Homo sapiens: one gene and its partners. The protein of the gene in region 2 binds, or shares a complex with, the protein of the main gene of each other region. Each region holds a gene or a part of one and is shown on either strand. Other genes may lie near its edges. A codon is read from its position in the direction of its gene.

What was found.
Region 1: the proteins of C5AR1 (region 2) and GNAI1 are in contact, whole or in part, in a cryo-EM structure (PDB 8HK5), measured with the Homo sapiens proteins. Residues at the interface, in NP_001727.2 of Homo sapiens: Asn71, Arg134, Leu137, Val138, Pro141, Ile142, Cys144, Gln145, Asn146, Phe147, Arg148, Ala150, Thr229, Arg232, Arg233, Ala234, Thr235, Arg236, Ser237, Lys239, Thr240, Val243, Val244, Ala303, Gln305; in NP_002060.4 of Homo sapiens: Arg24 (codon at 3,991), Ala31 (codon at 3,970), Arg32 (codon at 3,967), Glu33 (codon at 3,964), Val34 (codon at 3,961), Lys192, Asp193, Leu194, His195, Lys314, Glu318, Tyr320, Phe336, Thr340, Asp341, Ile343, Ile344, Lys345, Asn347, Leu348, Lys349, Asp350, Cys351, Gly352, Leu353, Phe354.
Region 3: the proteins of C5AR1 (region 2) and GNAO1 are in contact, whole or in part, in a cryo-EM structure (PDB 8JZP), measured with the Homo sapiens proteins. Residues at the interface, in NP_001727.2 of Homo sapiens: Asn71, Phe75, Arg134, Leu137, Val138, Pro141, Ile142, Gln145, Ile225, Thr229, Arg233, Ala234, Thr235, Arg236, Ser237, Lys239, Thr240, Val243, Val244, Ala303, Gln305, Phe307; in NP_066268.1 of Homo sapiens: Ala31 (codon at 2,163), Lys32 (codon at 2,160), Lys193, Asn194, Leu195, Glu318, Tyr320, Phe336, Thr340, Asp341, Ile343, Ile344, Ala345, Asn347, Leu348, Arg349, Gly350, Cys351, Gly352, Leu353, Tyr354.

The regions. Positions count from the first base shown.
Region 1 is NC_000007.14:80,128,613-80,139,220, reverse strand, and holds the start of GNAI1 (guanine nucleotide-binding protein G(i) subunit alpha-1), read right to left. Parts: upstream 4,391-10,608; 5' UTR 4,061-4,390; coding exon 3,943-4,060; intron 3,438-3,942; exon of another isoform or gene 3,149-3,437; intron 1-3,148. UniProt on the Homo sapiens protein: Guanine nucleotide-binding proteins (G proteins) function as transducers downstream of G protein-coupled receptors (GPCRs) in numerous signaling cascades.
Region 2 is NC_000019.10:47,304,460-47,314,366, reverse strand, and holds the start of C5AR1 (C5a anaphylatoxin chemotactic receptor 1), read right to left. Parts: upstream 4,507-9,907; 5' UTR 4,472-4,506; coding exon 4,469-4,471; intron 1-4,468.
Region 3 is NC_000016.10:56,186,504-56,194,488, reverse strand, and holds the start of GNAO1 (guanine nucleotide-binding protein G(o) subunit alpha), read right to left. Parts: upstream 3,001-7,985; 5' UTR 2,254-3,000; coding exon 2,136-2,253; intron 1,935-2,135; exon of another isoform or gene 1,916-1,934; coding exon 1,873-1,915; exon of another isoform or gene 1-1,872. UniProt on the Homo sapiens protein: Guanine nucleotide-binding proteins (G proteins) function as transducers downstream of G protein-coupled receptors (GPCRs) in numerous signaling cascades.

The DNA of each region.
Region 1 (10,608 bases), on a different chromosome or scaffold from region 2:
TATGAAAATGAAAAACAGAAGGTACAGAAAAAAATCAGCAATTCCAAAACCTGTGGCTTCTTACTAAAGTAACTAATACAAGGTATGCCATGAGAAAGAAGCACACAACCCATACTGAAATACCGGATCCGTTTATTCAAGGAAATGGGCTTTTTGACATCTAAGATCCTAAACCAATTCTAAGAAAGTCAAAGCAATGAAAAATCAAAAGCCCTGCATAGCCAACATTTCTCAACTAGGGGAAGTCACAGGGCAAGTTCAAAAGGAGTGAAGATTAATGATGCAGCATCCCAAAGGGCTGCCTGGTGGCAGCAATAGAAAAATATCCACCAAACAGAAGAAATCCAATCCCTCAGCTCATTTTCCCCCAAACCTGGAATATTTAAACCAAGCTGAAGAAGGAGACAAGGGTGTGGAATTTTGTATATGAGGGGGAGTGGAGCGGAAGGAAGGACAGTGAGGTGGAATAAATGAGAATACTGCTCAAAGCTTTGGAACAGAAAATAAATTCATGATCATTTATTTGTATGTCAAATCTTATGTCCTCCAAATACATAATAAAATAATATTTCATAAGTACAAGTAGTATACTATAGTTACCTACCGAAATAAAGCATAAGCTTAATCTTACTGCCCTTAAAAGGATGATAAATTAAAACATTCTCAAAGATATAACAATAAAAAATAATTTCCTCAACAATTAGACATTATTATATAAAAAACTTTCATTATTACTTACTTCTTTAAAATGTTTCTCTATTAAGTATTATCATCCTAATAAGCATAAAAACTAAACCTAAAAGACAAACAACCCAAACTCTGGCCTGATTTCCTTAGTGTCAATGATTAGACTAGCTCCTCTTTTTTTAAGGCCTAATTCACTGCTCAGTATAGTGAAATACCTCTGATTTAAATCATATAGACAGTGCCAAAATCTTTACTAATAGTGTGCAAGTCTCATATCTAAATTACTCAGCCCAGCTGTTTAAAATGACAATACATTCCTTAAGAAAAAAATGCAATATATTTAACAGACTGTCTTAAAAGTACTTTAGAGATTTTATGCCTTAAATTTAAAAAACATCATGTGATGAGAAAAACAGAATAAGTGAAGATGAACACGATCTAATGTAAATGGCTGTGACACTGGTTATACGTTACCTAGAAACGATTTTACATTTCTAGTTTATTCTACTGCCGTGTTTTACATGGAATTATTTCATTTAGCTGCTTACACATATGCTTTAAGGATTCAAAAAAGAACCAAAAGGTCACAATTTACTACTAAAGTCAAATTAGGAAAACAATGTTTTCGAACATTCCAAGAATTGAATTTCTGGAATAAGTAAGCCAGAATTCTGTTTACAGGACTAGGGTGATGGAACTCTGGGCAAAAGGGTAGACTAGAACGGGGATAAGACAGAGGAGAGTGCTGGGCCAGCAGGGACAGCCAGGATTTCCAGAGAGGAGAGAGGTAGGGAAAAGCAAAAGACCAAAGCTAGAAAAGACAGCCAAAAGAATTCAGTCACTTAAAGATTTCTAAAAATCATTCTGAAATATTTCCAATGGTACCAGTACTGGTTTAGAGAAATAAGAATTCTGGCCGGGCAAGGTGGCTCACGCCTGTAATCCCAGAACTTCGGGAGGCTGAGGCGGGCGGATCACCTGAGGTCAGGAATTGGAGACCAGCGTGGCCAACATGGTGAAACCCGGTCTCTACTAAAAATACAAAATTAGCCGAGCATGGTGGCACGCACCTGTAGTCCCGGGTACTCGGGAGGCTGAGGCTGGAGAATCGCTTGAACCCAGGAGGTGAAGGTTGCAGTGAGCCGAGATCGGGCCACTGCACTCCAGCCTGGGCGACTGCGCAAGACTCCGTCTCAAAAAAAAAAAAAAAAAAAAAGAAAAGAAAAGAAAAAAAAAAAAAGAAAAAAGAAAAAGAAATAAGAATTCCATAATTTCTTCTGAAAATGAGGCCTCTGCTACATCTTTCTCTGAACTCACTTATGATGACTGTCAAGATTCAACTTCTGGTTCTGTATTATACATTCAGTTATATTTAAGTCTTAATCTAGAACAGTGGTCCTTAACTAACGCTGTATTTTGCCCCCAGAGGACTTCTAGCAATATGTGGAAACACTTTTGGAGCTCACAGGTTAGGGGGCTGCTACTAGCATCCAATGAGCGGAGGCCAAAGATGCTGCTGAACATCCTACAATGCACAAAAACAACCTGGAGAACAAAGAATTACCCAGCCCCAAATGCCAACCGTGCTAAGATCAAGACACACTGATCTCTTCTGAACATAAGCAAAAGCCTACTCCTGGGACCTTTATTCTAGTCCATCCCTAACAGTCACCTAATTAAAGGACAAAACACCACCACCAGATGATTCATTTTTCAATTGCTTTAAACATGGTGGATGGCTGGCTCAAACTAAGAGTCACACAGAAATACACTGAAACAACGTATCACACCAGGAGAGCAAAAACTGCAAGAAAAAAACTTCTTAATCCTCTTATTTCATATCTATCTCACATTCAATTCACAAGAGAAGTACATACACTAACCTCATCAAAACACAGTATTTCTTATTAATGTAAAAACTTAGGCAAACAACATTAACTGAGAAAGATTTATGTTGGGGGCGACAGGGTGAAAAAAGCCACCCAGGTCTTTAAAATGCAAAGTTATTTCACAGTTTACTTGCAAAATGACTCAGATCATTATTACTTTTAGTCATGCCAACTTTGCTGCTCCCAAGCCTACTAGTAATGGAGAAAAAAAACCCACCATTTTTTCTGCAGTCATTAAACCAATGAAACAGAAGCTTACTGAAAACAGGTTTGTGCAACATTTCTTTTTTATTATAACTGGTATAAAAATACAAGCAGTCCTTGGAAATGCAAATGAAGATTCTGAGAAATTTTTCATCTATCTAAATACCTAGAGTGTGAGAAGAAAACATGCAAACAAAAGAAAACCCTAACTCACGAATCTTAACCTGTAAAGATTTTCCTAATGCTTCCCTCAGTGAAAACCCTGGTTTACTCTTTATTTTCTTCCCCGTCAAACATTTGGAAAAGACCTCCACGTAGCGTTTCACGAACAGAACAGTGCTAAGAACAAATAAAAGCCTTGCGTGTACCTGGCAAATCTCATTCATCAGAAACGGTGGCAGCGGAGACAGAACCCTGTTGTCTGGCGTGACCCTCTCGCTCTTTCACAGCAGTTTTCACCACTCGAGTATCTGCCTTGCCTACTACTAAAGCAAAGCTTCCCAACCCCACTTGGGTGGCTTCCATGCCCCCACAGCAAGAAAAATCAAGCATCCAGCGCAGCCTTTTCTCAGCGCAGGGGGAATGTAATCAGCGCTCCTTGACCACTTAAGGAGTCGCCATAGGAAGTTAACAGGAAAGACGCTTCAGCCCCATCTCAGAGGCCCCACAAAAGGTGCACTGATTTCACCAAACGTGGCACTCTGGGCATGAGAAAACCACAGTCGAAACACAACCTACACCGCACACGAAGAAGGGTTTTCCGGGAGGGGGTTGGTGGCGCGGGGGGGGGGGTGTTTTCATTTTCTAGCCGCGAATGCCCCTTCATCTTTACAAGGCTGAGCTAAACTTCAAAGCAAAGGGTTTCCACGCGACCCGCCGCCTCGGACTCGCGCCTGGGCTCTTTGCTGGGTCGCACGAAAGCATCCGAGTGAAGTGACGCGCCCGCCCCGCCGCGGGGAGTCCTCGCCCGCCGGGGCGGAGAGAGACCAGACACCGGGAGAGGGGGACCCGCCTTGCCTCCGCACCGCCGGACCCAGCTCCCGCTCAGAAGCCTCCTCGGGCGCTTCCTCCCCCTTCCCTCCGGGTTTCCAAACGCCGAGGGCCGCGCAGCGCCGCACCCGGTCCCCCGCCGACCCCCGGGCCCCGACCCGGCCGCCCTTACCGAGCAGCAGCAGCTTGACCTCGCGCGCCGCCTTCTCGCCGTCCTCACGGAGGTTGCGGTCGATCATCTTACTCCGCTCCACCGCCGCCTTGTCCTCGGCGCTCAGCGTGCAGCCCATGGTGCCGAAAGCGAGAGCCTGCCGCCGCTCCCTCCGCGCCCGAGTGCGGGCTCCAAGCACAGGGGAATCCTTTCTCTCTCCTAGCGGGCGTTCGAACGCCTCCCGACGGGGGCCACGCCGCCCCCACCACTTCCTAAGCGGAGTCGAGGGAGACGCTGTCCGCAAAGGGGCAGACAGCAACGGGCGGCTGTTCCTCACGACCAGGCTCTGCTTCCCGGCCCGGCTCAGCGCCCCCAAGTCCCGGGTTTGGGGTTTTGAATCTCTGGGTACAGTGGCCGCTGCACTCCCGCCGGTGGCCGCGCCGCAGCCTCGCCAAGCCCAGCCGAGCTCGGCCTCCGCGCGCCGCCGCGGCCCCGCCCCTGCCCGCCCCTCCCACCACCCCGCGACCACTCCCAGAGCGCGCGCCCGCGCACGTGCCCTCGGACAGCGCCCCCCGGCCCCGGACCCCGGCGCCGCGCCACCACTGAGGGCCTGGCGCCCCCTGGCAGCGTCCCCGGGGCGCGCCACTGCCCCGCGGGGCTGTGGCCTTCTGCCCTGGGCGGGAGTGGGGTAATTTCTTTCCGTTTACTCACACGGAGGGAGCTGTGCGTACCTGCCCCTTCGGGTGGGGGTGGGAGAGCTGCCAAAGTTGCCGAAAAAAGCCAGTTCTGGGCGTTTGAGCATGCCCAGCGCCGGCAGCCACGCAAGGTTTTTCAAAATGCAAATCCCTGTCGGCTGGTTTCAGGGCCGTGAGAAACAGGGAACTGGGGAAGGAATGGAGCCTGGTGAAACCAGAGATGGGCACAGTGGAGAACAGGAAAGTCGGGGGAGGGGACTAGAAAAGGGCACCAAGGTCACTTTCTTCCTACCTTTTGCTTCTCTTTCCTTCTTCCTATCCCTCCCTCTTTCCTTGCACTCTCACGTTTTTCACAAGAACGCATTTTGAAGGATTTCCTCGTAACCTAAAAAAAATGGAAGACAAATAATCAAAAGTATTTTTAAATGACAAGAGCAATAAAACACACCCACACAAGCCAATCTCCACATCGTAGCAGATCTCCTCTAGAGCAGCACATAAGCTTCCATGCCAAATTTGGAGCCAATATTTATGACCGTGTTTGTAACTCCTGTACCATTGGGCATGCCATTTTTACAGGCCTTAGCTTCTTTGCCCATAAAATGAGGAGTGGATCTATGGTGCTATCTCCCCATCCTTCCAGCTGTAACAATCGGCGGAGATAAGTTCCTGTGGCCCGCGGGAGGCATTGCTACTCAGCACCCAATGAATGAGCAGAGGCTTAAGATCTCATCTCTCCCTGTCAGTTGCACTACACCTTTCCCCTACAGATATCACAGGAAGCGTTAACTGATTAGAAAATGGGGCTGGTAGCAAGGAAAAACATGGTCCTTGATGTACTAAAAATTGGAACATGCTCCCTGGTTTTCATCTGGAAATCTTATTCTCTAAAAATCATTTGGGAAAACTGGGCTTGAGTTTTCCAAGGTGAGGCTGAACTGATGATACAAGCAGAATAGCTTTCGAGTAGGTCACTGAGACCACGCTTGTGAGCTAGCAGAGACTGAGTTGCCTCCTTATGGGACATGTCCTTTCCTGTTCTCCTATGGGAGTCACACCACCTGCTGGGCTGATGAGATGCAATTTCAAGATCTGCCTCAACTATAATCTTTTGTAATATAACAACAAAAAGGAACAATCTTTAAATGTACTTAGTCACCTTCTACACTGTAATTCTAGGCACTCTAAATGCTAATGTGTATCAGAACTCTGGAATTAAACTTAAGGAAATCAAATTTCAACACACTGTGTATTAGCCATTCTTAATTATCTTTTATGGTGAGTCTTTCCTATTAAGTTCGGACCAGAGTGTGGAACCAACAGTTTCAGCAAAAGAAGAAGCAGTGCTGGCTGAATATTGGTAGAAATGACTACAAAACTTGTGTTTCGGAGAAATGAAGTATGTGTAACAGAAGTTTGTCAAATAGGTAACATTACTTCCATCCTTTGAAGTTAGTCAAATAGGTGAGTTAAAATGTGATACATAAACGAATAAGAACAGCAAATTAGATTTATATGTAGCACAATTCCTAAGAGAATGCAGAGTAATGAACTGATCAGTATGGGGGGAAATTCTAAGATAAGAAAGTTTTGAAAAAACGTTTGAAGGAAATGATAACAGGATATTGGTGGGGAGTTTAAAGAAGTATGTATTAGTTCAGGCTGCCCTAAAAATACCATAGCCTGAGTGGCTGAAACAATAGGAATATATTTCTCACCGTTCTGGAAGCTGGTAAACCTAAGATTAAGGTGCCAGTTTATTCAGTTCCTCAGTGAGGGTTCTGCTGCTGCCTTGCAGATGGCCTCTTTCTTGCTGCGTCCTCACATGGCAGAGCAAGAGAGAGAGAGCTTGAAAGCAGTCTGGTCTCTCCTCTTCTTATAAAGGCCCTGTCTTAAAGGCCCCACTCTCAAGACCTCATCCAAATCTAATTACCTCCCAAAGGTTCCATCTCCAAATACCATCGTATTGTGGGTTAGGGCTTTGGAGACATTCAGGCCATAATAGGGTATATTTTGTTTGAGGGGAATAACCAGCTAAACAGTTAATATGCAAGATACGTGAAAGAGAAAACAATGGTTTTATAACTGAAAGTTGTTTGGTTGTGAAGAATGATAGGATGTGTGGGACAAAGTTGGTGTGAAGAATGATGGGATGTATGGGACAAAGTTGGAAGACAGCTTTAAATGCTAAGGTGAAGGGTTGGACTTGATACAGTGGGTACAAAGTGCTCCTTACATTCTTTCCTGAGTTGGGTACTAGATGTTAAAAAGCAAAGAAATAAAAAAACCCTCTTACCACTACATGTAAAACAAATGGGTACCAGCAAGTGAATTGTGTTAGTAATCCAAATGTGAGGTGGTGAGAGTCACTCAAGCTAATAACTTATGTAATTATGATGTTGCAAAATATGATTCAACCTTGTCAAGGAGATGAAGCAGATATTATTTATTTATCTCTTTTATACAGAGTGAAATTGAAATTATAGAGGTTAAAGCACTCTACTTCAGAATACTGTTTTTTCTTTTCAACATCATGTTTGTTTTTTAACAGCTTTTTTTTTTTTTTCCCTCGGGTTCAAGCTTTTTTGAGATATAAGTCATATGCCATAGAATTTGCCTATTTAAAGTGTACACTTCAGTGGCTTTCAGTATATTCACAGAGTTGTGCAACCATGATTACAATCAATTGTAGAATATTTTCATCACCACAAAAAGAAGCTCTGCATTCCTTAGCCATCATCTCCAATCCTTTATCTTTCCCCAGATCTAGACAACCGCTAATCTAATTTCTGTCTCTTTAGATTTGCCTATTCTGACATTTTATATAAAAGGAATCATATAGTGTACAGTATTTTGTGACTGGCTGCCTTCAGTTAGCATAAAGTTTTCAGGGTTCATCCATGTAGCATCCACCAGTACTTTATTTCTTCTTATTTCTGAATAATACTGAACATTATATGTTAAGAGAGTTAGAGACATATGTTAAAAGACAAATTAGAACACATTCAGCTGAGAGCCTCAGGTTTTCAAAGTAGCTACAAACTATGTCATAAGGAATAATTGAAGAAATTGGGGGATATTTAATGTAGGAATGAGAAGATATGACTGAAGAGATGTCATAAATCAAAAGGAATAGACTTTTTTAGCTGGCTTCAAGGTGGTGTTGAAACCTGTAGCAAACAAAATTTTGCCTTGCTATGTTGTGAATGGGAGACTTACCATATGGAATTAAGAAGTAAACATGGAGAATGCAGAAGCTGAATAAGGAGACTTTTTCAAGAATCTTAACCATGGAGAGGGGTTGACACATGGGATGGTAGTTGGAGAGGTAGGTTTGGAATTTGTTTCATTTCACTTGTAACTCTTCTCAAATATTATTCAACTGAGAAAAAAGGATTGCTATTGATATGGTTTCACTGTGATCCCAACTAAATCTCAGGTTAAATTGTAATAATCCCCACATGTCAAGGGTGGGACCAGGTGGAGATAATTGAATCATGAGGTCAAATTCCCCCATACTGTTCTCCTGGTAGTGAATAAGTCTCATGAGAGCCAATGGTTTTATAAGTAGGAGTTTTCCTGCATAAGCTTTCTTGCCTGCTGCCATGTAAGACGTGACTTTGCTCCTCCTTTGCCTTCCACCATGATTGTGAGGCCTCCCTAGCCATGCTGAACTGTGAGTCAATTAAACCTCTTTCCTTTATAAATTGCCCAGTCTTGGGTATGTCTTTATTAGCAGCATAAGAACAGACTGATACAGTTATGGGACAAAGGAAAAAATATGGCCACCCTACTTTCTGACCACCACTTCAGACCTTTTCATCTCACCCTCTGTTACGTTATTACCATCAATTCTCCAGTCCCACAGAGACCTTCCATCTACCGACCACATGCCTTTTCTCTTTCTGTCGTGTGCTGCATGTGCTAATGTCTCTCCTTATGCAACTTATATCCCATCTTCCATCAGGACAATTATTCCTTTGCAATATCCTCAAAACACTCCCACCATTGTATTCAACAGGAAAAACTTCAAATCTGGTTAAATCTACTCTGCCTCTGTATGACTATACCTGTTCAGCTGAGCTTGAACAGAGGAAAACACGGTAATCAACAACTCCACATTTCTGTTTGCTCAGGCCAAATACTTGGAGTCATCCTAGATTCTTTCCTTTCCTGCAAGCCTTAGTTATTCAATCTGTTAGGAAATCCTACTAACTTTGTCTTCAAATATAACCAGAACTTGGCCAAATATCGCCATCTTTACTGATAGACACTGGAGATATTTATCAAATATTAAATAACCTGCTTTCTGCTCCCTCTACTTTTACCTTAATCGCTTACTGTTCCCACCTAGCAGCCAGATGCATCCTTTTAAAATGTCAGGGAGAACTATCCATTCACTTTCCATCTCACTTAGAGGAAAATCTCATCTAAAATCCTTATGATGGCATACAAGGACTTACCCTTTTTTTTAACCATGTGCCTCCCCATAGTATTTTCTGCCATTCTCCTTGTTGTCTGGTTCAGCCTCCCTGACCTCCAGACTGTTTGAACTTGCCAAACACACTCCATCATTGGCCTTGGCATTTATGCTCCCCCTGCCTGGAACACTCTTGAGCCAGGTATCTGCTTGACTCACTCCCTTATTTCATCCAAATCTCTGTTCAAATGTAATCTTATCAGAGAGATATCTTTCCTAACTACTCAACAACCACTCTTTATTCCCTTATTACACACTATAATTTCTTTATATCTCTTATCACATAGCATATATATATTTGTGATTATGTGTTTATTACCTGTCTTCCCTCCCTTGAATATAAATTCAAAAGAGCAGAGACTTTGTCTTTCTTGCTTACTGTTTTATGTCCAAGACCTAGAACAGTAAAACCCGCAGTAATTGAATAAAGAGGAGCCTCTGGATCTAAAGTATAAATCTAGCTTTCTAAATCCATTAATTCATTTATTCAACAATATTAACTGAAGACCTATTATAAGCCAGGTGGTGTTCTTAGCACTGGGAATAAGGTGATGAATAAGACAGATTACATTGACGAGGAGATGGTGGCAGTGGTAGGAGGGAGATATTAAATAAATACATAAGTGGATCAATTTAATTGGATAAAATAAAAATAGTTATAAATGCTATGAAAGTAATGAAGCAGTGTTTTACAAGAGAGTGCACCAGTTCAGGTCTTCTGAGAAGCAGACGTCAAGACAGAATTAGACAAACAAGAGATTGGGAGAAGATTCTGTGAAGGATAAGAGAGAGTAGGAGCAGGAGTAGCTGGGGAGCACTTCAAATGTGATGCAGCTCTGACACCTGGACAAGGAGAGAAGGAAAGAGGGAGTTTGGGACAGGTTATGGTGCAGCTTGAAGAAAGTCTTGGCCAACCTGATGAGATCTCTGTCCCACAACCCAGTCCTGAGTAGATATTGTTCATTAGGGAAGTCCCGTACTGGGCGGAAGTGGTGAAGTGGGCTGGGTCTAGTACCCCTATCTTACTCAGTCACAGGCTCAGGGCAGCCTTGGAAGAGAGAGCCTCAGGCCTAAGTGAGAACACTGCAATAGATCTAAAGATGGGGCAGTTGGAGGCTATCAGCCAACTATGCTCCCTTAAAGGGTCATCTGAATGGTGCACCTTCGTGGCCACAACAAGGAGTTACTCTGAGGGAAAGATAGGTACTTTCAACTGAACATTCATGAAGATTACTCTAATGAGGTGACAACGTTTGAGCAGAGAACCAGATGGCTAGAAGGAACCATGTTTGGAGGAAGAAGATTCCAGTGCCTTTCAATGTTGAATACAAGGGCAACAGCCCTAGGGTGGAATGGAAGTTGACTTGATCAAGGAACTCAAAGGTTAGTTTGACTGAAGTGGAGATGAGAGAGGTAGGAGATCAGGGAGGCGAGGGCTGCAAGGTAGGCAGGAACCAGATCCTATAGAGCTGTGCAGGCCATTCAGGTGGAGGGAATTTTTTCTACTTTGGA
Region 2 (9,907 bases):
CGTAGGTAGCTGCATTGTGGCACGTGGCCCACATATTGGGCAGTGCAGGTCCAGGGCCACTCTGGGGGTTCTAATTGCCCGGCACTATTCCATGTGCTTCCCAGGTGTTGGCTTAGTAATTTCCTAATCACAGTGCATATCTATGTGACAATAGCACAAAGGGCAGGGTACTATTATTCTTCCTAAATTCACATGCTCATTAGAGGAACAACCCTTGTCTGTTGCATGGAGAAAGGGGCAGAGAGCAGAAGCTGGGAGGAAACGGAGATTGGAACTGTCCAGGTGACGTGAGGCATGACGGTGGCTTAGACAAGGGTGCTGGCCGCAAGATGTGAACGATCGGATGAGAACAGGGTGAAGGAGAAGGCGCAGTACCTACAAGAACAGCCATAATCATTGCCAGGCTGTCCTGAGCCTTTCTCGTGTATTATCTCATTGAACCCACAAAGCAACCCTAGGAGACTTACTTGTTGCAACAGCAACACTCATTTTCCAGAAGAGAAAAATGAGGCTACAGAGAAATGAACAGACCTCTCCAAGTCTTCTCGGTTAGCAAGAACAGAGACAGGAGAGAAACTCCTGAGAGCTGAGCCCCAGAGCCCTCTCTCTCTTTTTTTTTTTTATGAGACGGAATCTCGCTCTGTCCCCAGGCTGGAGTGCAGTGGCGCGATCTCAGCTCACTGCAAGCTCCGCCTCCTGGATTCACACCATTTGCTAGCCTCAGCCTCCCGAGTAGCTGGGACTACAGGTGCCCGCCACCATGCCTGGCTAATTTTATTTTTAGTAGAGACAGGGTTTCACCGTGTTAGCCAGGATAGTCTTGATCTCCTGACCTCGTGATCCACCCACCTCAGCCTCCCAAAGTGCTGGGATTACAGGCATGAGCCACCGCGCCCAGCCCAGAGCCCTCTGTTTGAGTGGCTACCAGGCAGGCCTAAAGTGCATTGGGAGTGGGGGGGCATGCATTCTAGGCAGAAAGGAGAGAGGAAGGGCAGGTGGTGCACAGCAGAAACGAAAGGTCAGCATGGCTGGCAGGCGGCCAAGATAGGACTGGAAGGTCTGCAGATGCTGAGTTAAAGAATGTGGCTGGACGCCAGGCGCGGTGGCTCACGCCTATAATCCCAGCACTTTGGGAGGCTGAGGCGGGTGGATCACGAGGTCAGGAGTTCGAGACCAGCCTGGCCAACATGGTGAAATCCCGTCTCTACTAAAATAAAATACAAAAATTAGCCGTGTGTGGTGGCACGCACCTGTGATACCAGCTACTTGGGAGGCCGAGGCAGGAGAATCACCAGAATCCAGGAGGCAGAGGTGCAGTGAGCCAAGACTGCACCACTGCCCTCCAGGCTGGGTGACAGAGCGAGACTCTGTCTCAAAACAAAACAAAACAGACCAAATATTAGAAGCAAACTAAATTTCCATTGAAGGGGATGAAACCTCCTACTAGCATATTACTCAGCTGATAAAAGAAAGAAAGAAGCACCAGGCTGGGCAACATAGCAAGACCCCACCTCTACAAAAAATTTTAAATCTAGCTGGGTGTGGTGGCATGCACCTGTAGTCCCACCTACTCAGGAGGCTGAGGTGGAAGACCTCAGTAGACCCTGTCTAGAAAAAAGAAAAAAAGGAGGAGGAGGAGGAGGCAACTCCCTTGAACTACACGGGAATGAAGTACCTTCCTCAAGGTTAAGGGGAAATTAATGAATGCCTAATACAACGCCTGGTATGCAGTAAGCACTCAATAAATGCTAGTTAATAATACTATATGTTATTCATTTAAAAAAGCCAGATGTAGAGTACTGTACAAAACATACTGCCATTTATAAGGCTGGGAAAGGATAGAAATGTCACCCACATTGAGCGCCAACTGTATACCAGGCACTGCTACAAGAACTTTTCATGCATTCACTCAGTCAATTCTCTCAACTAGCCTATGATGTAGATTCTAGTATTATCTTCACCTTAAAGATAAGGAGAAGGAGGCTGGGTGCGATGGCTCACGCCTGTAATCCCAGCACTTTGGGAGGCCAAGGCGGGAAGATTGCTTGGGGCCAGGAGTTCAAGACCAGCCTGGCCAACACGGTGAAACCCCGTCTCTACTAAAAATACAAAAATTAGCCAGGCATGGTGGCAGGCACCTGTAGTCCCAGCTACCTGGGAGGCTGAGGCAGGAGAATCACTTGAACCCAGGAGGTGGAGGTTACAGTGAGCTGAGATCACACCACTGCACTCTAGCCTGGGCAACAGAGCAAGACACTGTCTCAAAAAACAAAAAGATAAGGAGACAGAAGCACGGAGAGGACAGATCTCCGCAACTATTTCATAGTAGAGACAGAAGCTGAGCTCGGTTTTGGGGTTCCCCGCATCACACTAGTCCTTACTTTGTTCCCTAAGCATCTGTGCTCTCAGGCATCTGTAAACTGTTTCTGGAAGGATCCACCACAAACTGGCATCCCATGGTTGCCCCAGGTAGGGTAGGAGGCAATGAAAAGGAGTCAGAGGGCCAGGTAGGGTGGCTCATACCTGTAATCCCAGCACTTTGGGAGACCAATGTGGGTGGATCACGTGAGGTCAGGAGTTCAAGACCAGCCTGGCCAACATGGTGAAACTCCGTCTCTACTAAAAAGACAAAAAATTAGCCAGGCGTGGTGGCGCATGCCTGTAATCCCACCTAGTCGGGAGGCTGAGGCAGGAGAATTGCTTGAAGCCGCGAGGCAGAGGTTGTGGTGAGCCAAGATCGTGCCATTGCACTCCAGCCTGGGCGACAAGAGTGAAACTCTGTCTCAAAATAAAAGGAAAGAAAAGGAGTCAGAGGCTCTGGGGTAGGCAGGGAGAATGAGTTTTTTTTTTTCTATGTTTGTTTTTTGAGATGGCCCTGTTGCCAGGCTGGAGTGCAGTAGAGCAATCTCGGCTCACTGCAACCTCTGCCTCATGGGTTCAAGCGATTGTCGTGCCTCAGCCTCTCAAGTGCTGGGACTACAGGCGCCCGCTTATATGCCCAGCTAATTTTTGTAGTTTTGGTAGAGACGGAGTTTCACCATGTTGGCCAGGATGGTCTCAATCTCCTGACCTTGTGATCCGCCCGCCTCAGTCTCCCAAAGTGCTGGGATTACACGCATGAGCCACCGCGCCTGGCCGAGAATGAGTTTTTACCAAGTATCATTTGGTACTTTGGAAAATGTTTTGGAAAGAAAAAAAAAAAGAAGAAGAAGAATCAGAGAGTCCCGTTTGCCCAAGTCGGATCTCAAGGGTGGAATGCAGGAATGAAGCAACATCAGACCCCTCCCTGGTCCATCCAAACCATCTTCCGTTTCCTCTTTGACACAGATGAAGCAAGGCAATGCCTGTGTTACAGCAGGTGCTGAATCGCAGCTCTGCTGGCTCAGTGCCCAGGCCTCCAGACGCAGGGATGACAGGGACCCTCATTTAGCCTGGGGTGCATTCCTTCTGACACTCACAGAATCCATGGCATAACCTGCTTCTGCCACCAACCATGGAGGGTCCCCATCCATCTCTGCTCCTGCCTGGGCCTCAGTTTCCCCATCTCTGTCATGCAGAACATCTCAAACGACCAGGCATAATGGCCTCATGCCAGTAATCCCAGAGCTTTGGGAGACCAAGGTGGGAGGATGGCTTGAGGCCAGGAATTTGAGACCAGCCCTGACAACATAGCAAGAACCCATCTCTACAAGAATAAAAATTTTAAAAATTAGCCGGACATAGTGGTGCATGCCTGTGGTCCCAGATACTCAGGAGGCTAAAGAGGGAGGATCACTTGAGCCCAAGAGTTCAAGACTGCAGTGAGCTATGATGGTGCCACTGCACTCCAGCCTGGGCAACAGTGCAAGACCCCAAGTCGAAAAAGAAAAGAACATCTATCTGCAAGAGCATCTGAGTAACTTGACCATTCCTCCAAACTGGTTCTTTCCAGCCTCCCAACATTTTCTCTGCCATTCCCACTGCCTGGAAGGCCTGTTCTAGATTTCTTCACTTGTGGAATTCTTTAAATAAAAAAAAAAATACAGACAGGGTCTCACTATGTTGGCCAGGCTGGTCTTGAACTCCTGGCCTCAAGCAATCCTCCCGCCTTGGCACAATCCCCAATGTGCTGGGATCACAGGTGTGACCCACTGCGCTCGGCTGCTTGTGGAATTCTTAGTCACCTTACTAGACCCAACTCAAGGGTCCCCTCCCCTGGGGAATCTTCTCGGGCCCCAGCCCCACGAGGTTGCTGTTGCTCCCACAATCTTGACAATCTTATTCCCATGGCCACATCCCAGCCCTGGAGTGTGAGAGCCTGGGATGCAGGAGAGAGGGAAGGTGGGAGGTGGAAGACAGGGAGAGAGAAGGAAAGGGAGAGACAGACAGAGTTGACGGCGAGAGTTGGGGAGAGAGAAGGACCCACTGGAGCAAAGATGGGAGGGACCCAGGACAAAGTTTCCTGCTCCCATTCCCCTTCGAGACTCACCATGTTCTGGTCTCCTGGGCTCCCCGAGGATCGAAGGTCCCTCCTGCCCAAGGGCTGTGGTTTTTAAAGCCCCAAGGGAAGATGCAGGGAGGAAATGACCGTCTTTCTCTCTGGGGCTCTCATTGGTCTGCACACTGGGCACTGAGGCCAGAGCTCCCTCTGCGGGGCACACACCCAGGGGACTCTAACCACCTCCTCCCAGGCAGAGAAGGGGGGCCGGCGCTCGGAAAACCGAGGAAGCTCCTGTGCAGGCTCGGCCCCTCTCCTGGCCTTGGTTTCCCTATTTGGGGCCATCTCTTCTCTCTCATTTTTTTTTTTTTTTTTTTGATAGAGTCTTGCTGTGTCGCCCAGGCTGCAGTGGAGTGGTGCAATCTCGGCTCTCTGTAACCTCTGCCTCCTGGGTTCAAGCACTTCTCCTGCCTCAGCCTCCCGAGTAGCTGGGATTACACGTGTGTGTCACCACCCCCGGCTAATTTTTTGTATTTTTAGTAAAGACGGGGTTTCGCCATGTTGGCCAGGCTGGACTCAAACTCCTGAGCTCAGGCAATCACCCACCTCAACCTCCCAAAGTGCTAGAATTACAAGTGTGAGCCACTGCGCCCGGCCTGGAGCCATCTATCTCTTTCCTCCTAAGACGCCAGCCTTCTGGGCAAAAGCTCAGGAATGCAGTTGGCTTAAACCCCTCCCTTGGGATTCAAGAAAGCAGAGACTGTAACCTCCACTCAGCCTCCCGGCCAGGCTGATTTGAGACCCAAAGAGGCTGAGCTAGTCTGCGGAGGTAGCCCAGCATTTAAGTATATTTTACTGTTAAATCTTCCTTCTAGGGCCAGGTGCAATGGCTCACACCTATAATCCCAGCACTTTGGGAGGCTGAGGCAAATGAATCACTTGAGGTCAGGAGTTCAAGACGAGTCTGGCCAACATGGTGAAACCCTGTCTCTACTAAAAATACAAAAATTACCCAGGTGTGGTGGCAGGTGCCTGTAATCCCAGCTACTTGGGAAGCTGAGGCAGGAGAATTGCTTAAACCTGGGAGGCAGAGGTTGCAGTGAGCCAAGATTGCGCCACTGCACTCCAGCCTGGGCAACAAAGCAAGACTCTGTCTCAAAAAAAAAAAACCATCGTCACCAGCCTGGCCAATATGGTGAAACCCCATCTCTACTAAAAATACAAAAATTAGCCAGGCGTGGTGGTGGGTGCCTGTAATCTCAGCTACTCAGAAGGCTGAGGCAGGAGAATTGCTGGAACCCAGGAGGCGGAGGTTGCAGTGAGCAGAGATTGCACCATTGCACTCCAGCCCAGGCTGACAACACCAAGACTCAATCTCAAAAAAAAAAAAAAGAAAAGAAAAAGAAAAGAAAAGAAAAAAATCATCCTTCTAGGGTTATAAAGTTGGCAATAGAAAATGGAGCTACCCTGTCCCCCAACTACACAAGCCACAACCATCTCCATCTATTATTGTTACATTGTAATATATAATGAAATAATTATACAATTCAACATAATGTAGAATCAGTGGAATCCCTGAGCTTGTTTTCCTGTAACGAGATGGTCCTATCTGGGGGTGATGGGATACAGTGACAGATCATCAGGCATTAGATTCTCATAAGGAGCTTGCAACCCAGATCCCTCACATGCGCTGTTCACAACAGGGTTCATGCTCTTTTTTTTTTTTTTTTTTTTTTTGAGATGGAGTCTCACTCTCTCACCCAGGCTAGAGTGCAGTGGCACGATCTCGGCACACTGCAACCTCCGCCTCCCAGGTTCAAGCGATTCTCCTGCCTCAGCCTCCCGAGTAGCTGGGACTACAGGTGCCTACCACTGCACCCGGCTAATTTTTGTATTTTTAGTAGAGACGTGGTTTCACCATCTTGGCCAGGCTGATCTCGAACTCCTGACCTCGTGATCCACCCGCCTCAGCCTCCCAAAATGCTGGGATTACAGGCTTGAGCCACTGCGCCCGGCCTGGGTTCACGCTCTTATGAGAATGTAATTCCGCCCCTGATCTGACAGATCAGGCGGTAATATGAGCGAAGGGGCGTGGCTATAAATACAGATGAAGCTTCACTTACTCACCTGCCACTCACCTCCTGCGATGCTGCATGGTTCCTAGCAGGCCATGGACTGGTACAGGTCTGCAGCCCAGGGCTGGGGGCTAAGATACTTCCTAGAGCCTGGGGCAAGGAAGGAGCCTAGATTACCTTCCCGAGGCTGCTGTAACCAATTAGCACAAACTGCGGGCTTAACACCAGGACCGGGCGCAGTGGCTCATGCCTGCAATCCCAGCACTTTGGGAGGCTGAGGCGGGCAGATCATTGAGGTCAAGAGTTCAAGACCAGCCTGGCCAACATGGCAAAACCCCATCTCTACTAAAAATACATAAATTACCTGGGTGTGGTGGTGCATGCCTGTAGTCCCAGCTACTCGGGAGGCTGAGGCACAAGAATTACTTGAACCCGGGAGGTGGAGGTTGCAGTGAGCCAAGATGGCACCACTGCACTCCAGCCTGGGCGACAAAGCAAGACTCCACCTCAAGGAAAAAAAAAGAAAAAAAAAGCCAGACAATTATTTTGGCATGGTTCTGCAGGCCAGAAGTCCAAAATCAAGATGTCACCACTCCCTCCAGAGGTTCCAGGGGAGAATCTGTTCCTTGCCTCTCCCACCTTCAGGTGGCTCCTGAAATTCCTTGGCTTGTGGTTGCACCACGCCCGTCCCTGCCTCTGTGGTCTCATCACCTCCTCCTCTACCGTATGTCTCAAATTTCTATCTTCCTCATATAAGGACTCTTGTGATTCCACTGAGCCCACCCAGACCCAATCCAGGATAATCGCTCCCCCATCTAAAGATCTTTAACTTCATCCTATCTGCAAAGTCCCTTTTGCCATGGAAGGTCACCTGTTCACAGGTTCAGGGGATTAAGATGTGGACATCATTGGGGATCATGATTCTATCTGCAACAGGGTCTGAGAAGCTAGAGAGTAAGTGTGTCCAGTGGTGGAGAGAAGCCTTGAATGCCGAGCTAAGGAGCCTGGACATGGCCTTTCCTTCGAAATAGATGCATGACCTGTCAACCTCTCACCACCTCGGCTCTGTTACCCTGATCCAAATCACTATCACCTTCTGCTTGGACCATTACAGCAGCCTCCTCTCTGGGATCTTCACTGCCCCCCCTCCGTAGTCTCATCTCCACCAGCAACCAGAGGGAGCCTATTAAAATCTAAGTCAGATCAAAGCACTCCTCTGCTCAGAATAGGGGGTTGCCTGATTTAGCACACACACCTACACAAACAAAAACACATTACAGACTGCCCAGTTAACTTTAAATTTCAGGGTTGGGCCTGGTGCTTCATACCTGTAATCCCAGGGCATGGGGACACCGAGGAAAGATCGCTTGAGGCCAGGAGTTTGAGAGCAGCCTGGGCAACATAGTGAGATCCCATCTCAACAAAATAAATTAAAAATTAGCTGGGCATGGTGGCACGTGCCTGTGGTCCCAGCTACCTGGGAGGCTGAGGCAGGAGGATCACTTCAGCCCAGGAGATCAAGACTGCAGTGAGTTAAGATCACAAAAATATTTTTTTTTTCACATTTTACCTGAGAATCTTGTATTTTATCTGGTAACCACAGCTCAGAGCCCTCCCTTGGAGCCTACGGCACAATGAGTGTGATTGTTATGATGATTACAGAAACACACTCAATTTTTTTTTCCCATGTCCTTCTGCGACTCTACAAAACACCACCCACAACTTTCTCCCACAGTATTTTTCTACAGCAAACTTCAATTTTTAAAAATCTGGTTTTCGGCCGGGTGCGGTCCTCATGCCTGTAATCCCAGCACTTTGGGAAGCCGAGGCAGGCAGATCACCAGTTCAAGAGATTGAGACTATCCTGGCTAACATGGTGAAACCCCGTCTCTACTAAAAATACAAAAATTAGCTGGGCGTGGTGGCGGGCACTTGTAGTCCCAGCTACTCAGGAGGCTGAGGCAGGAGAATTGCTTGAACACGGGAGGCAGAGGTTGCAGTGAGCCGAGATCGCGCCACTGCACTCCAGCCTGGGGACAGAGCAACATTCTGCCTCAAAAAAAAAAAAAAAAAAATCTGGTTTTCTTTTAATTGCAAAGGAAATGCATGCTCATTGTAAATATTTAAACAATCCAGAAATACACTCCTCCCCACTCTAAAAATAGAAAAAAGAAAAAGACACCAATGAAAAGTCCCATTCCTGTCACGCTTCTGAATTCAGCTGGGAATTCACCTAGACTTTTACAAAGGTGGAGTTTGTGTTTGGCCATGGACACGCGGGTACACGATGTTCAGCAAGTTTTAGTTCCGCTAATTGAAGCCATGTGCGCAGTCTGCGTTACTCACCCAGGATTTCCAAGGTCGATTTGTGGCGATTTGGAGCATTATAGGAATGCCGTGTTGTTCTAGCCCTGACCTCCAGGGGGCGCAGGAGCGGGGAGGTTCAGGAAGCCAGGTCACAGGAACTTGACTTTTAGGATTTTGGATGGAAGTTGCCTCCTCAGCCGTAAATCATGGGTTCTTAACATTTTTAGGCCCGGGACCCTTGATAAAGGTGTCCTTGATAAAACACCCCCTCAGAAGAAAAAGAATTTTTTTAACTTTTTATTTCGATGGAATGTCAAATGAAAAAAGTTGCAAGAATAGTAAAAGCGGCCGGGTGCGTTGGCTCCCGCCTGTAATCCCAGCACTTTGGGAAGCCGAGGAGGGAAGATCACTTGAGGTAAAGAGTTCGAGACCAGGCTGACCAACATTGTGAAACCCCGTCTTTAATAAAAATACAAAAAAGTAGCTGGGAATGGTGGCAGGCACCTGTAGTCCCAGCTACTTGGGAGGCTGAGGCAGGAGAATCACTTGAACTCAGGAGGAAGAGGTTGCAGTGAACCGAGATCATACCACTGCACTCCAGCCTGGGCGACAAAGTGAGACTCTGCCTCAAAAAAAAAAAAAAAGAAAGAAAGAAAAAGAAAGCAATTGGGGCCAGAAGCAATGGCTCATGCCTGTAATCCTAGCATTTTGGGAGGCCATGGTGGGAAGATCACTGGAGTCCAGGAGTTCCAGACCAGCCTAAGTAACATAGTGAAACCCCCATCTCTACAAAACACAAAAAATTATCCAGGTGTGGTGGAGCACACCTATAGTCCTAGCTACTTAGGAGGCAGAGGCAGGAGGATCACCTGAGCCCAGGAGGTCGAGGCTGCAGTGACCTATGATTGTGCCACTGCACTGCAACCTGGACAAAAGAGCAAGACCCTGTCTCGAAAAAAAAAAAAAAAAAAAGACAGAGGCCGGGCACGGTGGCTGACGCCTGTAATCCCAGCACTTTGGGAGGCTAAGGCGGGTGGATCACCTGAAAGTCAGGAGTTCAAGACCAGCCTGGCCAACATGGTGAAACCCCATCTCTACTAAGAATACA
Region 3 (7,985 bases), on a different chromosome or scaffold from region 2:
TCCACCACTTGCAACGCCTGAAACCTCATCCAGCTCAGGTGGCTGGGGCTTCTACTGGGCTCCGAGTCCGCCACTGCTGATTACAGACTTCTGAAGTTTTAAAACGTCCCCCCTCGGGAGAAAGGGGTGGCGCGGCTTGCATTTACAGATCTGCAAGGGCTCCAGACAGATGCAACATGCACCTTGTTGCAAAGGGCAATTCCCCAGGCCCCGCCTCCCCATCAATTTGGGTTGCACAAGCTCAAGAGAAGCCCCAAGCTAAATTACCCCTGGCTCAGAAGGGTGCGGCGAGCCAAGGGGGGCTCTGCGAAGAAAGCCCCAGGGAGCTCTCGAATAAAAATAAGAACATGTCAAGCAGATGGGAAAATTGTCTCCGAGTCGCTACTCCCTACCATCATGGCGCCGCCTAGAACCCGCTTGTCATGCCTGTTACACATCCAAGATTTTTTGCATCTTGGTTCTGAAACCGCAAGCATGCTTCGTCTCCCACTCCCACCTTCCCACGAAAGGGGTTTTTATTTTCCATTGTTTCCCTACGCGATGCAATTATTTCGGCTATTGTGTCAAGTTGAAAAATAATCATTTTTGTTTACTGCACAGCAACCCCTAATTAGGAGCTGTGTGTGCACGAAGGTGTCACAGCAAAGCGACGTGGAATCTTCGCTAAACGGTCTAAACGAACTCCTCCGTCTCGAACTGACAGGCCAACCGAAACAGGAGGCCCGGAGGGCGCACACCCCTTCGCTGCCGGCCACCCCCTCCCCAAGCAAACCTGCCTGTGGGATCACCAGGAACTGCCGAGTGGATAGGGCAAGAAGCGAGCCTGCAAGTGGAAAGGAGGGGCGAGGCTCCTTATTGAGAAAGTGTGGAAGGGAAGGAATATCCCATTTTGTTTTAATTTTCAACCATCACTCAAATCCACCCCCAGTTAATTAGGAGGGGAAACTGATAGCTAAGGCAGAAGGGGGCGGCGGCAAGTGGGGCCTGAAATCCGCATTGTGGGTAGATTACATGGAACACGGCCTATGCAGAGTGTAAATAAATACACTGATAAAGGCCACGGAGCGAACGAAAACTGCGGGTGTCAGGAGAGCAATGCTGGGAGGGTGGGGGAGGAGAGGAGCTGGGGGCAGCAAGGGGCGGACATTCAGCCTCACAGGCAGCTTCCCTCCCCCTTCCACCTCTACCTTGGATAAAACTGTGCCCGTCACCTACGTTTGGAAACCCACTCCTTCCCCTAGCACACGACCCCTCCCCTAACCCTGGCCCTCTTTTTTTGCGGGGGAGGGGGTGCGAGGGGATGTAGAAACCACAGCCTCCAATTCAGCACCAAACGCATGAACAGCAGACACTTGATCCTCCACCCCAGTCTAGGGCTGGGTCCCCTCCATGTTAGCCAAGTTCAAAATCACTGCCCCAGGAAAAGAGCAGGGGGAAGTGGGATTACGGACCTTGGGGGATAGGGAGGTATGGAGGGAAGAGGAGAAAGAAATAGAGACAGAATGAAACAGAGACACAGACAGAAATGGAGGCAGTGAGACACAGAAAATATTCCACAAGCAAGAGTAATGATCATAATCATGCCAATAGTGTGATGTTCTGATCAATATGGCGGACACTGTCATTCATACAACTACAGGCGCTCCCCTTCCCCCTCCCAAAAAACACCCACCCAGGAGTTAGGGTGGAGGACCCAGAACCAACGTAGGGAGTGGGGGAGGGGAGTCAAATATAGGGGTGTGTGTGTGTGTGTGTGTGTGTGCACGAATTAAAAAACAGGCCTGGAGAGCAATGTGGAGTAAGCAATGTAATAAAAACGATTTAAAAATTATTCTTAATAAAAGTACGAATCCCAATGCCACAGGGACTTACTTCATCTGCTTCACAATGGTGCTTTTTCCTGATTCTCCAGCCCCTGTTGGGACACAGACAGTGGGGAAAAACTGGTGAGTGTCAGCTTAAGGGAACAGGGGGAGGGGGGGACTAAGGCATGCGAGGGGGTGGGCGATCCTGGGCACATGGTGGTGCCAACTTGGGGACCAGGTCTCCCGGGCGCGAGTGGGGTGGGGGAGCTGGTGGCAGGGGGTGCGGAGTGGCCGGGGTCGGGGGATGGGGGTAGCAGCGGCGGTCCTTACCGAGCAGGAGTAATTTCACGTCTTTGGCGGCGCTGATGCCATCCTCTTTGAGGTTTTTCTCAATCGCCTTGCTCCGCTCGAGGGCGGCTCTCTCCTCTGCGCTCAGAGTACATCCCATGGTGGCCCCTTCCCTGCCACAGCCCGCACGACTCGGCTGGCACGGCTCCCCGGCTTGGAGCGCCCCCCACCCCCCCAGAGAGCAGAGCCTGGGCTCAAGGGGGGAAAATCACGATATCCTCTCCTGGGCTGGAAACAAAAATGTCGGGAAACCAGAACCCTCCAAAAAGACAGCCGCTAACAAGATTCCAGCAGCGGAGACTCGCGGCAGCTGGCAGGGGTCTGGGGTTGTCGAATCGAGGGTGGCCGGGGTCTGGGGCTCCGGAGCCAAGGGAGGAGGCGCCCGCGGGCCGAGGAGGCGCGGACTGCAGGCACTGAGGCTTGTGCACGACCCAAAATAAATAAAATAATAGTCGAGGCTGGAGCCGCAGCCGGAGCCGACAGAGGGTGGGGTGGGGGGCAGGGTGGGTCCTGCTGCCGCGGCTGCCGGAGGAGGAGGAGGCGGCGGCGGCGGAGGAGGAGGTGGAGGAGGCGGCGGCGGCGGCGCGGGATGTGGAGGGAGTGAGTTAGGGGGTGCTGCTAGTGCATGTGCATCGCCGCTCTTCAGCCGTCGGTGCGTCCGCGGCGCCTTCGCCGACCCCCGCGCGCTGGGCAGGGTTGGGCAGGGGGCCGGGCCGAGGGGCAGGTCTCTAGCGGGAGGCGGCGTCGCTGTCTCCCAGAGCTCGCATCGCTCGGTGAGCCTACCGGAGAGAGAGGGAGAGCGCCAGGGAGCCGCAGCCAGCCGGGAGCTCGAGGGAGAGGGAGAGAGAGAGAGGCAGGGAGGGAGGGGAAAAAAAAAATGGGAGAGCGAACAAGCGCGCGCGCGCCTGGGCCCGGGGCGGGGAGGAGGCCAGCGCAGCGCGCGAGTGCGCCAGCGGCTCTGCGCACCCGGCTCCGCGGGCCGCCAGCTGACGTCAGCAGGGCCGCGCGCCGGGCCCCCGGGACGGGGAGGGCGCGGGGCGGGGGAGGCGCGCGCCGGAGTTCGCGTCAGCCGGCGGCGGCGCGCACACGCGCTCGCGGAGCGGCCTGCCCCTCCCCCCAGCGCCCTCCCGGCCCGCGGCTCCCCCGGGGTGGGTGCTTGCGGGACTGGCGGGGGCGGGGAGTGGGGCCGGGCGCGCGCCGGGGCGCCCCACCCCGCCTCCGCCCCCGCCCCACGCGCCGGCGGCGCGGACCTCCTTGTCAATGGGAGCGCGGGGCCGGGCTGCCCGCAGGACGGTCAGGTGGGCCCCCCAGCTCGCTGCCAGCGCGGCCTCTGTCCCTCTCGGGCCGGCTCTCCATCTTGTCGCCCGTAGCCCGCCTTCTCCGTGGCTCTCCAGCCGCTGGGGCCGCAGAGCCGAGGCCGGGTTACCTCAGGAAACGCGATGTGGTAGTGGGTCGGAATAAACCCGCGCGCCCCAGAATTCGCCTTGGGGGCGTAAGGACAGATTCGGACTTTTCGTTTCCTATGTCCACATTTATTGAGCACCTAATATGTGACACCCGAGGCTGTAAGAAGAGGAACGCAGCGGGCGGAGAAAAGCCAGAGCTTTTTCTCTGTGAGCCGCTGCCTCCAGGGCCATAGCCGACCCTGCTCCGAGATCCCAGCCGCCGCTCTCCGTGCAGGAGGGGTGCCCACCCTGGGGAGGCCAGGGTGCCCGGAGTGGAGGGACAGGGCTTCAAGCGACCGGGAGTTTCCAGCAAACCCCTGATCCCTGAGCAGTTTATTTTAAAAGCTTTTGCAAATGTTGGACGGTTTCGTTTGGTGGAGGCCGTCTTTGCACTAAATTCTCCTGTCCTCCCCCTTCGAAACGCACAAAATGAATTTTGAACAGATTTTGGATGAGAGGTTTTCTTCCTTTTTTCATCTTCTGAAACATTTCCCCCTCATTTCTTCTCAGATAAAGACCCAGAAACCCGGGACAGTTACTCGGTGTACAGCTAGTCAAATACTGAGGAAACCAGTCGATATTTGCCAAAGATTGGGCATGTTCTGGGTGGTCTCAGATTTTGAAGAAACGACTTTTTTACTGCACAAAATAGTTTTACAATCAGTTCCATCAGACAGCCCCAGGGGCTCTCCTAGGGAAAGGGGCCAATAGGCAAGGTTGCATGGGGATAAGAGAGGCAAGCGGCCAGTGGAAAACGGTTTTTTGTTTTTTTTTTCCTAACAGTTGGGCATTTCTGTAGCTCTGAAAGCAAACTTGTTTGTTTCATTTCAACGATAGAAAAAAAACACTCCTGTTTTGGAAATGTAACCCAGCATAAAAATACATTTGCAATGGGGAAAAAGAAAGCAGTTTAGGGCCACCCAGAAGAAAATATTTTTTCCCTGATTTTTTTTTAATTTGGTATTTCCCAGTGTGGGTTTGCCTCATTTTACAAATAGCTGCCCATGTCAAGATGTGGGTATGTGATTTAAATATTTTAATTTGAATCACATTTTACATAGTCTAGGAAACTGACAAAAGAATCCTATAGAGAATTGTTTTATAAAGTGAATAACTGCTTCTCTACCTACCCGCCCCTCTCATTCTTCTTTTCTGTGCGTGTTTTTGGGGGGCTGTTATGGGATAAATCTTGTTTGGCTTAAAAATCACTAAAACGCAGCCTTTCAAATCCAAAACAGAGAGCTTAGGTACCCAACATTCTATAGAATGTATTATTTCCTCAAGAGGTTGCTAGGAACAGTTATGTAGATCTACCAGGTGCAGGGAAGCACTCCACACCCTCACCCAGGTCCTGTATCCCTGCAAGACTGCGTTGGAAAGACTGAAGAGGTAAGAATATACCGATTTAATTGCGGATTCCGGGTCACATTTCACGTTTCCATGCTCTTTCTTTGAAGTAATTTTTAATTTAAAATCTTAGGCTCTTGGATTATTTGGGTTTGTATGGTTGAATGAAACTATCATTGACCTTAGGTATATTTATTTCTTCTTGGTATCAGACCTAGTATGATGGAGGCACAAACCTGTTTTGCGTTTTTCTTTACTCACTCTACTTATTAAGCACCTACCTACCATGTACAGGGTAACTGTTCTAGGGGCTATAGATGTTGTATTTCAGGTTTGTCTACTCAGTTTTCTTTTTCTGGGTCACTTTGCATCTTTATCGCTGGGCTTCGTAAAAGACTAATAATAATCCGCTTCATCTGTATAGTGCTTTACAGCTTACAGAGCACTTTTACAAAAATTGTCTCATGTGATCCTCCCACATAAACCTCAGTTAAGCACATGGCGTGGGAAGCATCATGGCTGAGTGCAAAGAACCTGGACCATGAATACAGATCAACCTGAGTACCCATTTTATAGCTGAAGAAGCTGAGCCACTGTTTAGGGTCACGAACAGTTATTCTCCTTACTACTACCTGTAAGTAGTAAGCCAGTGCTCCTTTCACATGTTTGTGGACTATCTGAGAAACTGCATGCTATATGCACATATAAAGTGTGCTTCCCAGACTTACAGAAAGCATACAACCCCAGAACCCACTCATATTCAGGTTCCCCCAAAGGACGTGAGGATAAGAATCTCTCAGTTCTCTGTGAATTATTAGTAATTAGATAATACCACGTGTTTAATTGTTCACAATTAATTCCTGTGGGAATGAGGAAATTACTATCCTAACATCAGCAGTGGGAGATGCTTAGACCAAGGACAGATTCTATTTGGTTTTATTTTATATGATCCTCAGAATTTTATTTCTCAGATTATTGTTGATGTCCAGAGAATAACTCTCCCTCCAACCTCAGCCATTCCCTTTGCTACACACATACATCATTCAGTATATTTTTAATTTTATAAGTAGGTAATCAGAGTATTTTATATACTCTCTAAAAGAAACAACGGCAAAGCCCTTTACTGCATGTGGCTCCTGGATCTGGAGGGCAATTCATTATATCAATAAGATTCCCCAGCTCTGACTTACAGAATGTGGGCTCTGATTAGGTAAACTGACTTCCCCTGTTTGTTCCCTTTTATACTTTAATTAAATATAAAATTACTTTAATTATTTAAATATGTATGCATTGGCAGTCTACTGTGTTTAATATATTGATTTAGACATGAAGACAGGTTGGGATGTCATGAGCTTGGAATCTTGAAATCTTGAAAATTCTGGAATGTTTTCTCAAAACAATTTACATTAGAATTAGCTGGGGTGCTTGTTAAAAATTCAGTTATCCATCTTACTTTTACCAACTCAGATTCTTCAGCCATTTGCATTGATAGCCACTCCCCAGGTGATTTTTCTGTGTACAGAGTTTGGTCTTGTGCAGAATCTGTATGTGCCAGTTAATTCTGTTAAGAGCTTACTTTCTTAAAGCCCAGATACCTCAAATGTTTCTAAATTCAACATTTTTTTATGTTTAGTAGTTTTTTTGTATTTCTGTGAAAGGGAAAAAAACTATGAAAATTGCTTATGAATACTACTCTCACGGGAAGAAAATAGGCTAAAATATGTGGTTCATAACCTAAATGAAACTAAATATCCAGTGAATTAGTCATTTTATTATTATTATTATTATTATTATTATTATTATTATTATTATTTTTGAGACGGAATCTCACTCTGTTGCCCAGGCTGGAGTGCAGTGGCGCAATCTTGGCTCACAGGAACCTCCGCCTCCCAGGTTCAAGAGATTCTCATGCCTCAGCCTCGCGAGTAGCTGGAATTACAGGTGAGCGCCCATGCCCAGCTACTTTTTTTTGTATTTTTAGTAGAGACAGGGTTTCACCATGTTGGCCAGGCTGGTCTCCAACTCCTGACCTCAAGTGATCTGCCAGCCTCGGCTTCCCAAAGTGCTGGGATTACAGGTGTGAGCCCATGCACGCAGTGAATTAGGCATTTTAGGGAGAATGGTAGGTCACTAGAAATTTTGGGTTTCTGCACTAAGTGTTTCTGTTATAAAATTGATAACTCACAATCCAACTTAGTGGTGAATATGATTTAGAAGAATGTCTGGTTTTGGCTAAGAGATGACTTTTCTTTTTTTTCCAGTTTGTATCTGGCATTAATGAGGGAAGGTGCTGATCAATTTTTTTATGTCCCTAAAAGATGAGTCTTCTATTCAGCATTTCCCTAACTCATACTTGTGCACATCTCTCAGACCTACCAGAGTGGTGGTTCTCAAATGTTGTGCACAAGAATTACCCAAGATGCTTTTTAAAGAGCAGATTTCTGGGTTTAATCCCTAGAATTTCTGAATCAGTAAGTTTGAGGCTAAGCTTAGGAATCTTCATTTTTACATTCATACCTTCTCCCTAAGTACTCAGGTACTTTGGGAAAACATTAGTAAACTGTAAACTCCTTTTAGGGGACAGAGTTGTCTTATTACTTTGTATATATCCCCAAAGGTCAAGGATGGCCCACTGCCCATAAGTCATCAGTTTCAATATTTGTTAACTAAACAAGGGCTGATTTAGCAAGGGCTAAATCAGACAATGTGACAAAGCTCTTCCCACCTCTGAGACTTTTTTATTTTTGTGGTAGAATTTTTTTTACTTGATTATTCTAGAAAATGCTTAGGATTGGATGAGTTCAAAAAGGTAATGGCTTGTCTTCAAGTAAGGCTCTGAAAAATGAAATGATACAGATTTTAAACAAACAAATGGGAGATTTATAGGCCTATGCCAGCTTGTGAGAAGAGTGTTTGCCAGGTGTTTTTGACATTCCCGTCAGAAAATTTTTTGCTCAATTTTGTGTCCCATTTTGTTATTTTGTAGAATTCATGAAAAATTAGTTTTCTTATTTATAATTTTAGGGATAAGAGATGTCAT